Linked DNA regions of Homo sapiens. The protein of the gene in region 2 interacts with the protein of the main gene of each other region in a pairwise test. Each region holds a gene or a part of one and is shown on either strand. Other genes may lie near its edges. The genes, in order: HTT, GSK3A and YWHAE.

Region 1 (3,653 bases), on a different chromosome or scaffold from region 2:
ACATCTTAATTATATCTTTGCTTCCAAGAAGAAGTCCTTTGATACTGTTTTCTGAGTTCTGAATAGCTGATGAAAATGACCAATTGAGGAATAATCATACTTTTTCTTGATCTAAATCTTATACTTTTGAGTTATCTTAGCATAAATGTATAATTGTATTTTAAGTGGAAATTTGTCACTTAATCTTGATTTCTCTGTTTTTAAAGCCCTTCAACAGGCACATTTATTGAAAAACATGAGTCACTGCAGGCAGCCTTCTGACAGCAGTGTTGATAAATTTGTGTTGAGAGATGAAGCTACTGAACCGGGTGATCAAGAAAACAAGGTGAGGGACATAGGCTTGAGACGACTTGGTGTTTCTGAGCTTGTGTGAGGATTTAAAATCGCCCTGGCTACTGTCTACTTTATTGCTTTCCCATCCCTGGGCCTTTAAATTTCCCCTTTAAATACCAGCTCTTCCCAGGCCTGTTGTTTTCTGCCTTTCCAGGTACTACCCACAGCCTTGAGAATTGCCTGAGTTCTGCCTCCTTTGAGAGTGTGCCCCAGACAAATCTATTCTGTACTGAATGTTTCCTTGTCTGATTTCTTGGATCATTCATTTGATGGTTGCGTATGGCCTGCAACGTTTCTTGTTTTGGTTCTACTGAACTGTTCTAAAAGTCTCTCTTCATATTATCTTTTTACATGTAAATGTAACTGTCTTCACTTTTAATTCCTCAAGGACAAGGAATAGCGTTTCACAGTTCGTCCCATCAATCAGAATTATAGCCTTTGGCATCTCCCTATCTACCAGGCCCACTTCCTCTTAGATTTGGGCTTCCCCAGGCTGTTGCCTTTCCCCAAGTAGCTTCTGCTTGTCCTGTAGAAGACCTTTCATGCTTTGCTTCTGCAGCAGCCGTTCCTGAATGCCTAGTGTCAACTGCCTTCTTACCACGCCCACCCTCCCTGCATGCTGCATTTATCCCCTGCCACAGCCCTGTGACCCTGTGTCCTGCTGCCTCTGACTTGTCTGTTTCTGCTTGGCCATGGTCTCTGTGAGGTCAGGTGTGCATATGGGCACAAACCAGGGCATCTCTTTATCCCCAGCACCTGGCTTAAGTGCTGCTCTGGAACTATCTGTTGAATGAACTAATGCATGAATGTATTGTTGAGTATGAGACAAACAAGTGTCATTGTCTCCTTTCTAGCCTTGCCGCATCAAAGGTGACATTGGACAGTCCACTGATGATGACTCTGCACCTCTTGTCCATTGTGTCCGCCTTTTATCTGCTTCGTTTTTGCTAACAGGGGGAAAAAATGGTGAGTACAAAAGGGGATGTGCACAGTTGAAGGAAATAACTAGGTTTCAGAGGTCAGCTTGGTGGCCTGTTTTTGCCTTGCGTGCAGCAGAGGAAGTAGAATCTGAGGATGAGTTTGGTTTTCACTAGCCGAGGGGAGGGAGGAAATGATGGGAGCAGGTAGGTTATTGGGTCTGGTTTTGTTCATTTGAAAACAATCTGTTGTTTGAGGCTGAAGGTGGCTTGGGTGATTTCTTGGCAGTGCTGGTTCCGGACAGGGATGTGAGGGTCAGCGTGAAGGCCCTGGCCCTCAGCTGTGTGGGAGCAGCTGTGGCCCTCCACCCGGAATCTTTCTTCAGCAAACTCTATAAAGTTCCTCTTGACACCACGGAATACCCTGGTATGTTAAAAGTTCACATCTTATTTTCTCAGATTTAATCATTATTGTAAAAACTATTTCAGTATTGACTATTTTAGTTTTAGAGCAGTAAGTGTTTTGAGTTCATTTGGGATATTTGACCTGCGTTGTAGCTCTTCAGAAAACACATGAATAGTGAAGTTCTTTGTTTCATGGGTTCCCTTTAGATGAAACCCATAGAGGAGAAAAGTAGAAACCTCAGCACGTAAGAGCCAACATATATACACATCGGATTTAAACCTAAAGCACAAATTGTGCCTGGTCGCAGTGGCGCTGAGTCGCACTCAGCCAGGCCAGGCATTCACACTCAGGGTGAGTGGGAACCAGGACTGGCTGAGGCAGCAGTGGACCCAAGTCTCCATCGCGCCCATGCTTACTATGGAGCCTTCTCGTTCTCTCTTTTTCTTTGGGTGAGAGGGTACACTTGTGTTTTTGAATTTATATGAGGTAAGTGTGTAATAGGGTTTTTTCTAATCTTTTTTAAGTGGAATCTGGAATTTTAATCAGATTTATTATCTGACAACCTAGAATTATAATCCAGAAAGTCTGTGGTATTGAGGACATATTGGCAATATGATGAATCTCTAATTCTTAAATCCTGAAACTTTTTTTTTTTTAATCACTTAGGGTTATTATAGTGAAGTCATTTCTGAATTTGGATCTTCTCTTCACACCTCTTTTTCTCTTTCCTGAGAATTAAGCTTTTGTTTCGAGTTAGAAAGTTGATAGTAGGGAATTGTTCCATGGCTGAGCAATTTATCTCCACAGAGGAACAGTATGTCTCAGACATCTTGAACTACATCGATCATGGAGACCCACAGGTTCGAGGAGCCACTGCCATTCTCTGTGGGACCCTCATCTGCTCCATCCTCAGCAGGTCCCGCTTCCACGTGGGAGATTGGATGGGCACCATTAGAACCCTCACAGGTAACGGCCAGTTTTTCAGCTGTGTTTTTTCTAGTTATGCTTACTAAGGTTTAAGTTTAGATGATGATGTTTGTTGCTTGTTCTTCTGGTTAGGAAATACATTTTCTTTGGCGGATTGCATTCCTTTGCTGCGGAAAACACTGAAGGATGAGTCTTCTGTTACTTGCAAGTTAGCTTGTACAGCTGTGAGGGTGAGCATAATCTTCTGTGGAACCATTTCTTCACTTAGTGGACATTTTATCATTGCTACAATTAAAATTGGAGCTTAATAGGAAATATTTCCATGCACTCTAAAGCTGTAACCAGTAATACCCACCATGTATCCATCTCTCAGCTTTAGAAAGAAAACGTTGCCAGTAAAGTTAATGCTTCATAAACTTCAGTTTAAGTTCTAATTCTCAGAATATTTGTTTGAAATAGACCTCTTCCTAAAGGATATATTTAGAAATAACCTATCATTAAGTGTAAAGTCTGTTGAATATGCTGGGCACGGTGACTCACACCTGTAATCTGACCACTTTGGGAGGCCAAGGTGGAAGGATTGCTTGAGCCCAGGAGTTCAAGACTATGGGCAACATAGTTGACCCTGTCCCTACAGAAAATTAAAAAAAAAAAAAAAAAAAGTAGCTGGGTATGGTGGTGCATACCTGTAGTCTCAGCTACTCGGGAAGCTGAGGTGGAGGGGGGATTGCTTGAGCCCCAGAGATCAAGGCTGCAGTAAGGCGTGGTTACACCACTGCCCTCTAGCCTGGGCAACAGAGTGAGACTGTCTCAAAAATAATAGTAATAATAATCAGTTGAATTAAAAAAAAAAAAAAAAAAACCACTGTGCTAGGCCCATAGTATGGTAAGAGTTAAAGTGAGCCTTAGGGATTATTTACTCAACCTCTGTTTCTGTATAAAGTGGAATAGGCTCAATTCTTTAAGTGATAGCATGTTGAACCTTTCCATACCAACTGGCTCATAAGTCACAACTGGCCAGTCAACAAGAGTAAAAATTAACTGGTAAAAATCAAAGCAAAAAACCTACA
Region 2 (3,066 bases):
CATGTTTTAAGTGAGGATAAAAGTCAAGTTCTCTGTCCCCACCTTCACAGGGTTGTCACTTCCCAACATCCCTAAGAGGTGGACCAGGTAGGTGTCCTGTTTAAGACTTGGAAATGAAGGCTTGGAATCTTCTAGGGTTCCATCTCCAGCCATGGCCACCCAACAAAGAGTCTACAAGCAGGCTAAGTTTTGGCCTGAGTGACTCCTCATCATCTCATGTCCCCCCAGACCCTAGAGCAGCAGGCAGCTTGGGCTAAGACAGACGGCCCATTGTTCAAGTCCTGACTCTTCTGTCACTTAAGCTCCATGGCCTTCCCCTCTCTGATCCCCAGTTGGCTCACCAGTTACTGGGAGGTTAATCCCTCCCTCCCTAAGCAGAAGCAGATGATTTATGCTGGGTCATGGAGCAGGCTCCTCCTAGGCCTCTACAGCAGATAACCCAGATGGAGCTCATCACCACACGTGCAGAGAAAGCCACGGTGTGAGAAGGTTGGGCACCTGAGCCAGGGCCTTCGGACAGCCCTCTGCCTGAGATGCAGCTCACTCCCGTCCCAGAACAGTCCCCCCACCGGAAGCCCCCACCACCTCAGCGGAAACAGGCAGCCGGACAGAAAGCAGGTTTTCATGCCAATAATTTATTGAACGGAGGTCTGTACACAGGCAAACCTTACTGTGGAAACTAAGACATCAGGAGCTCTCTCCACTCCCCTGGCCCTCCAGGGTGGGGTGAGGAGGGAGTAGACCTTGGGGGCAGAGGACAGGAGGGGAGTTACAGCTGTAGGAGGGGCGGGGCCAGGTTGGACGGTGCGAATCGACGTTTTCTTTAAGAAAAAAATTATAACAATCTATTTACACCCGGGGGCCAGGGAAGGGAAGAGGAGACGGGCTGGGCTGGTTCTATTTACAAGGGACACAGGAGGGGAGGGGGTCTGGAGGAGGTGGAGGTCTGGGGGAGGGGAGGGGGCCAAGGGGGTAGGAGGTCCTCATCCCCCCAACACCCTGTCCTTCTCTTCCCTCCCCACAACCAGTTAAAATCCTCTTAAAAAGCCCACCACAGGGGTGAGGCTGGTGAGGGAGGGACTGGAGGTGGGGACAGGGACTCATTTACCTCTGCCCTCTAGTCTAGGGGCCCAGCCAGGGCAGGAGCTTGATGGGCTATGGCCCCCCTTCCCAGCCCCTCTTGGGGCTCCCAGATGGAAGTGGAAGGGTGCTTGGTGGGGCCCTCAGGAGGAGTTAGTGAGGGTAGGTGTGGCATCGGTCGACTGCCAGTCTGAGCTGGTCGGAGTCTCAGTTAAAGCTGGAGGGAGGCAGGGAAGGAGCAGAGTTAGCCTTTGCCTTTCAGACACCCCTTCGCCCAACCCAAAAGTAGGAATTCTCTTGTCATAGATGCTACATTAAAAGTTACAAGCTGTTACTTTAGGTGAAGGGTTGCAAACTCAAGTGCTAAAGGGCCACGATAGTAACTGAGTGACACACCAGAGTGCCAGGCTCCATATAAGGCGGTGGCTGGGCTGGGCACAGTGGCTCACGCCTGTAATCCCAGCACTTTGGGAGGCTGAGGTGGGCAGATCACAAGGTCAGCAGTTCGAGACCAGCCTGGCCAACATGGTGAAACTCCATGTCTACTCAAAATACAAAAATAAGCCAGGCATGGTGGTATGAGCGTGTAATCCCAGGTACTTAGGAGGCTGAGGCAGGAGAATCACTTGAACCCAGGAGGCAGAAGTTGGAGTGAGCCGGGATTGTGCCACTGCACTCCAGCCTGGGTGACAGAAAAAGACTCCGTCTAAAAAATATAAAGGGCGCCCACTGTCTACTGTCAGTAGGATGGGCGGGCCCATTGCTGCCCAATCTGATTTTCTTCCCCAAGAGAAACAGGAAATCTGAATTTTTACATAAAATAGCCCCATTTTTAAACGTGGACACCATGGCCAGGCACAGCGGTTCACGCCTGTAATCCCAACACTTTAGGAGGCCAAGCGGGAAAATCACCTGAAGTTCAAGACCAGTCTGGCCAACATGGTGAAACCTCATCTCTAGTAAAAATACAAAAATTAGCCAGGCGTAGTGGTGTGTGTCTGTAATCCCAGCTACTCGGAGGCTGAGGCAGGAGAATTGCCTGAGCCCAGGAGGCGGAGATTGCAGTGAGCCGAGATCGAGCCACTGCACTGCAGCCTGGGTGGCGAGTGAAACTCTATTGCACAAAAAAAAAAAAAACAAACTTGGGCAACGAATTCAACTTTTTGTTTGTGTTCAGGCCAGACGTTATTTCTCTGGCTTTCCCATTGGCATTAAACACATTTAAACATTTGTACGCAAGAATACCCTCTAAAGGTGGTCATTCACATGTTGTAAGATGTGTTTCCTATGCCATCAAAATGTCGATGATTTAAAAATACATTCAGGAAACCCAGTCACTGAGCGAACAGCCCCACCCTCTCCAGGCTGAGAGATACTTTAACCCCCAGCAGATGGTCCCCACTTACCTTGTGAGGACGGGGTGAGGGTGGTAGTGCCCGCTGGGGACCTCAAGTGAGGAGGGATGAGAATGGCGTTGAGAGACGGTTGGATGGAGAGTTCTAGAAACAGGAATTGACATGCTAGTCAGGGTAGACTACAGCAGGGTTATGATGGGCACCAAATGGGAACCCAGCTATTGGGAAGGCCAGTTGTTTGTGGACACCTTCAGCCACAGACCTCTCTCAATGAAAAACCAGAAAAAGCTTAGCACAAGGCAGATCACAGTAAAGCACAACTGAAGCAGGTTCGATTCCCCCTGAATCTGGGAGTCATCTTTCCTGAGCCCCAGGCCTGCCTTGTACCCTGCCCTTAGCTCCCCACTCCTGCTTCAACACCAAGCTCCTCACAATCTTTGGCTGCCCCCCTACCCCGCCCCACTCCCCAGATCCCAGGCTATGCCCTCACCACCAGCACTGAAGTTGAAGAGAGGGGGAAGTGGGCGGTTGTTAGGCAGCTGGGTTCCCAGACATCGCAGTTCATCAAAGAAGCTGTGCGCACAGGCCTCTAGTGGGGAGAGCCTTGAGGATGGGGTGTACTCCAGCAGGC
Region 3 (3,653 bases), on a different chromosome or scaffold from region 2:
TGCCTGTAATCCCAGCACTTTGGGAGGGAGGCTGAGGTCAGGAGTTTGAGACCAGCCTAACCAAGATAGTGAAACCTCGTCTCTACTAAAAATGCCCCCAAAAATTAGCCAAGCATGGTGGCACATGCCTGTAATCCCAGCTACTTGAGAGGCTGAAGCACCAGAATCGCTTGAATCTGGGAGGTGGAGGTTGCAGTGAGCTGCGATCGCACCACTGTACTCCAGCCTGGCCAGCAGAGCGAGACTCCATCTTAAAAAAAAAAAAAAAAAAGGGCTGGCCAAGCACAGTGGCTCACACCTGTAATCCCAGAACTTTGGGAGGCCGAGGCGGGCAGATCACACGAGGTCAGGAGTTCGAGACTAGCCTGGCCAACACTGTGAAACCCCATCCCTACTAAAAATACAAAAAATTAGCCAGGCATGGTGGCAGGCGCCTATAATCCCAGCTACTTTGGATGCTGAGGCAGGAGAATCGCTTGAACCTGGAAGGCAGAGGTTGCAGTGGGCCAAGATCACGCCACTGCACTCCAGCCTGGGTGACAGTGCCAGGCTCTCCCTCAAAAAAAAGAAAAAAGAAAAAAAAAAGGAAAAGAAAAGGCCAGGTATGGTGGCATCCACCTCTAGTGACAGCTACTTGGAAGGCTCAGGTAGGCGAATCGGCTGAGCCCAGGAAGCCAAGGCTGCAGTGAGCTATGAGTGCACAACTGCAGAGACAGAACAAGATCCTGTCCGGAAAAAAAAGTTACCCACAGAATTTTCAGTCCCAATTCCACCTCAAGGTGAAGTTAAATACAAGGACTCAAGCAAATACTTAGTGCACCCATTTTCATAGCAGCATTGTACTCACCATAGGGAAAAGGTGGAAACCCACTGACCACCAAAAGTTTAATGACTAAACAATGTGTGCAAAATACATAAAATGAATTGTGTAAATTCAGTCACTAAAAGGACTGAAGCTCTGATCCATGCTTTTACATGGATAAAAACATTACGCTAGATGAAATAAAGACAGCCACAAAAGGACAAATATTATATGATCCCACTTACATGAGGTATCTAGAATGGGCCAAATTCATAGTGACAACGTAAAATAAAAGTTACTAGCAGCTAGGGAGAGGGGAAATGAAGTTATTGATTGTTTAATGGCTATAATTCGCTTTGTGTGGGGTGAAGAGAAAGTTTTCAAATAGTGGTGATTACACAACACTGTCAATGTATTCGGTGCCACTAAATTGTTGTGTGTGTGTGTGTGTGTGTGTGTGTGTGTGTGTGTGTGTGTAAAAGTCTCGCTTTGTCGCCCAGGCGAGAGGGAGAGGGAGACGGGGAGAGAGAGGGAGACGGGGAGGGGGAGGGGGGGAGGAGGGGGAGGGGGGGAGAGAGGGGGAGAGAGAGAGAGAGAGATTTGAAAAAAAGTCTCACTGTGTCACCCAGGCTACAGTGTACTGGTGCAATCGAGGCTCACCGCAACCTCTGCCTCCTGGGTTCAAACAATTCTCCTGTCTCAGCCTCCCGAGTAACTGGGATTGCAGGCATGCACCACCACACCCGGCTAATTTTGTATTTTTAATAGAGACAGAGTTTCACCATGTTGGTCAGGTTGGTATCGAACTCCTGATCTCAGGTGACCCACCCACCTCAGCCTCCCAAAGTGCTGGGATTACAGGCGTGAGCCACTGCACCCAGGCTATCACAACTTTTTAAAAGTAAAAAGTTATGTACGTATAAATATTCCTTACATATTTATCTACATTATCAAAAACTGGGAACAAGCTGAAGTATAAATGGGGGAACAGTTTAACACACATTAGTAAGACTGAAACTTGTTTATGCTAAAACAGAAAATATAAAATTATGTTTGCTACGAGAGTAACTATTAAAAACATGCCCATAGAAACAGAACACTGGCTGGGTGTGGTGACTCATGCTTGTAATCTCAGCACTTTGGGAGGCGAAGGCGGGCGGATCACTTGAGGTCAGGAGTTCCAGACCAGCCTAGCCAAAATGGTGAAAACACCGTCTCTACTAAAAATACAAAAAAAATTAGTTGGGCATGGTGGCAGGCCCCTGTAACTCCAGTTACTCAGGAGGCTGAGACAGGAGAATCACTTGAACCCAGGAGGTGAAGGCTGCAGTGATCTGAGATGGCGCCACTGCACTCTAGCCTGGGAGACAGAGTGAGACATGGTCTCAAATTTAAAAAAAGACTGAAAACTAATATAACAAAAATTAAAATAATTCTAATTCCTCTCATTTCCTTCCTCTACTCATTTTAACATGTTAGATTTCAATCTACCAGCAACAAAAATATCCCACATCAAAATAATTATGCTGACTGCTATGCTAGTGGGTTGAGACAGGTCTGTTTTAATACTATCCAAAGTAGTTTCAGTAAGAGCCAAAAGAATTACTATGCAGCCAAGTCTACAAAGACAGGCCCAAGAAACAACACGGAAAACCCAAACAGCGCCCCCCTTAACTTTCACGCTGAGCGCTGCTGTTCTTCCCCACAACTTACCTGCAGGCACGGTCAGGGGAATTAAGAATTTCGTAGTAGAATACGGAAAAATTGAGAGCAAGACCTAAGCGAATAGGATGCGTTGGTGGAAGTTCTGTCATTGCAATATCACTAGCAGCTTTATAAGCCACTAGGCTGTTCTCCGCAGCCTCCTTCCTGTCGTTTCCTGTGGCAAATTCTGCCAGATACCTGTGGTAGTCCCCTTTCCTAAAACAAAACCAAAATTAAAAAAAAAAAAAAAATTTAAACTAGGAACGATTTTTAAAGGAAAATAAGCTAAAATTGTTCTATATTATATAAAATGTGACAAAAATATATGTAACAATTAGGTGTACTTCAATAATTTTAAACACTCTCAGGAATAACTGGCTTCGTTTCATTTTTTTCCTTAGACATTTCATATTACTAAATATAAGCAAAAATCCCAGGAAATTAACTGAGGAGCCTCTAAAAATTAATAAAATTATCACCTGATAGACCAGAATTAAACAAGCAAGTGGTTCCAAGGAATGGCATGACAGTTTATTAATCATAAAATAAAATGTCTATATATAACACTAAGCACTGTGAAATGTATGCCGTTTGGGGGAGGGGAATGGGATAGGTCTCACAAAAACAAAAGAATATAAATAAGCAAAAGCTAATACATTTTCATAATAGCCCAACCACCTTTTCATTACAATATTAACTATCCTTCTAACATTGAACAATTATTCTTAAATAAAAGTTGAAAACCTACATAGAACAAAGTTATGGTTCTAAAAGGACCAACTTTCAATCTTACATTTTCCCTTCTAGTATAGAACCTACATTTTATAATAGAAAACCTTGGACTCGCCAGTGTTAGCTGCTGGAATGAGGTGTTTGTCCAGTACATCCAGAATGTCACAACAGATTAACTTTAGCTCAGTCTCAACCTAAAAAAAAAAAAATTTTTTTTAAATCAGATTAAGTCTAGAAATTCTACAAATTATTACATATTCTATCTCTGGTTTTGAGGTAGAGAGCTTAGTATTAAAAAGAATTTGTATCCCTCTCCAAACTCCCTTCTTCCTTCTTGACACAAAAGCAGAGAAAAGCTGCCTCTAGGTTATAAAAAGTATCTTTTCCCTTCTGCATGCTGCCTATTGTTACACAC

The links.
Region 1: the proteins of GSK3A (region 2) and HTT interact in binary tests that used the Homo sapiens proteins (3 or more experiments, as listed by UniProt).
Region 3: the proteins of GSK3A (region 2) and YWHAE interact in binary tests that used the Homo sapiens proteins (3 or more experiments, as listed by UniProt).

The regions. Positions count from the first base shown.
Region 1 is NC_000004.12:3,130,099-3,133,751, forward strand, and holds part of HTT (huntingtin), read left to right. Parts: intron 1-206; coding exon 207-325; intron 326-1,187; coding exon 1,188-1,299; intron 1,300-1,539; coding exon 1,540-1,677; intron 1,678-2,463; coding exon 2,464-2,622; intron 2,623-2,715; coding exon 2,716-2,813; intron 2,814-3,653.
Region 2 is NC_000019.10:42,229,571-42,232,636, forward strand, and holds the end of GSK3A (glycogen synthase kinase-3 alpha), read right to left. Parts: coding exon 2,926-3,066; intron 2,580-2,925; coding exon 2,487-2,579; intron 1,298-2,486; coding exon 1,224-1,297; 3' UTR 620-1,223; downstream 1-619. UniProt on the Homo sapiens protein: Constitutively active protein kinase that acts as a negative regulator in the hormonal control of glucose homeostasis, Wnt signaling and regulation of transcription factors and microtubules, by phosphorylating and inactivating glycogen synthase (GYS1 or GYS2), CTNNB1/beta-catenin, APC and AXIN1.
Region 3 is NC_000017.11:1,358,577-1,362,229, forward strand, and holds part of YWHAE (14-3-3 protein epsilon), read right to left. Parts: intron 3,433-3,653; coding exon 3,326-3,432; intron 2,723-3,325; coding exon 2,516-2,722; intron 1-2,515. UniProt on the Homo sapiens protein: Adapter protein implicated in the regulation of a large spectrum of both general and specialized signaling pathways. Binds to a large number of partners, usually by recognition of a phosphoserine or phosphothreonine motif.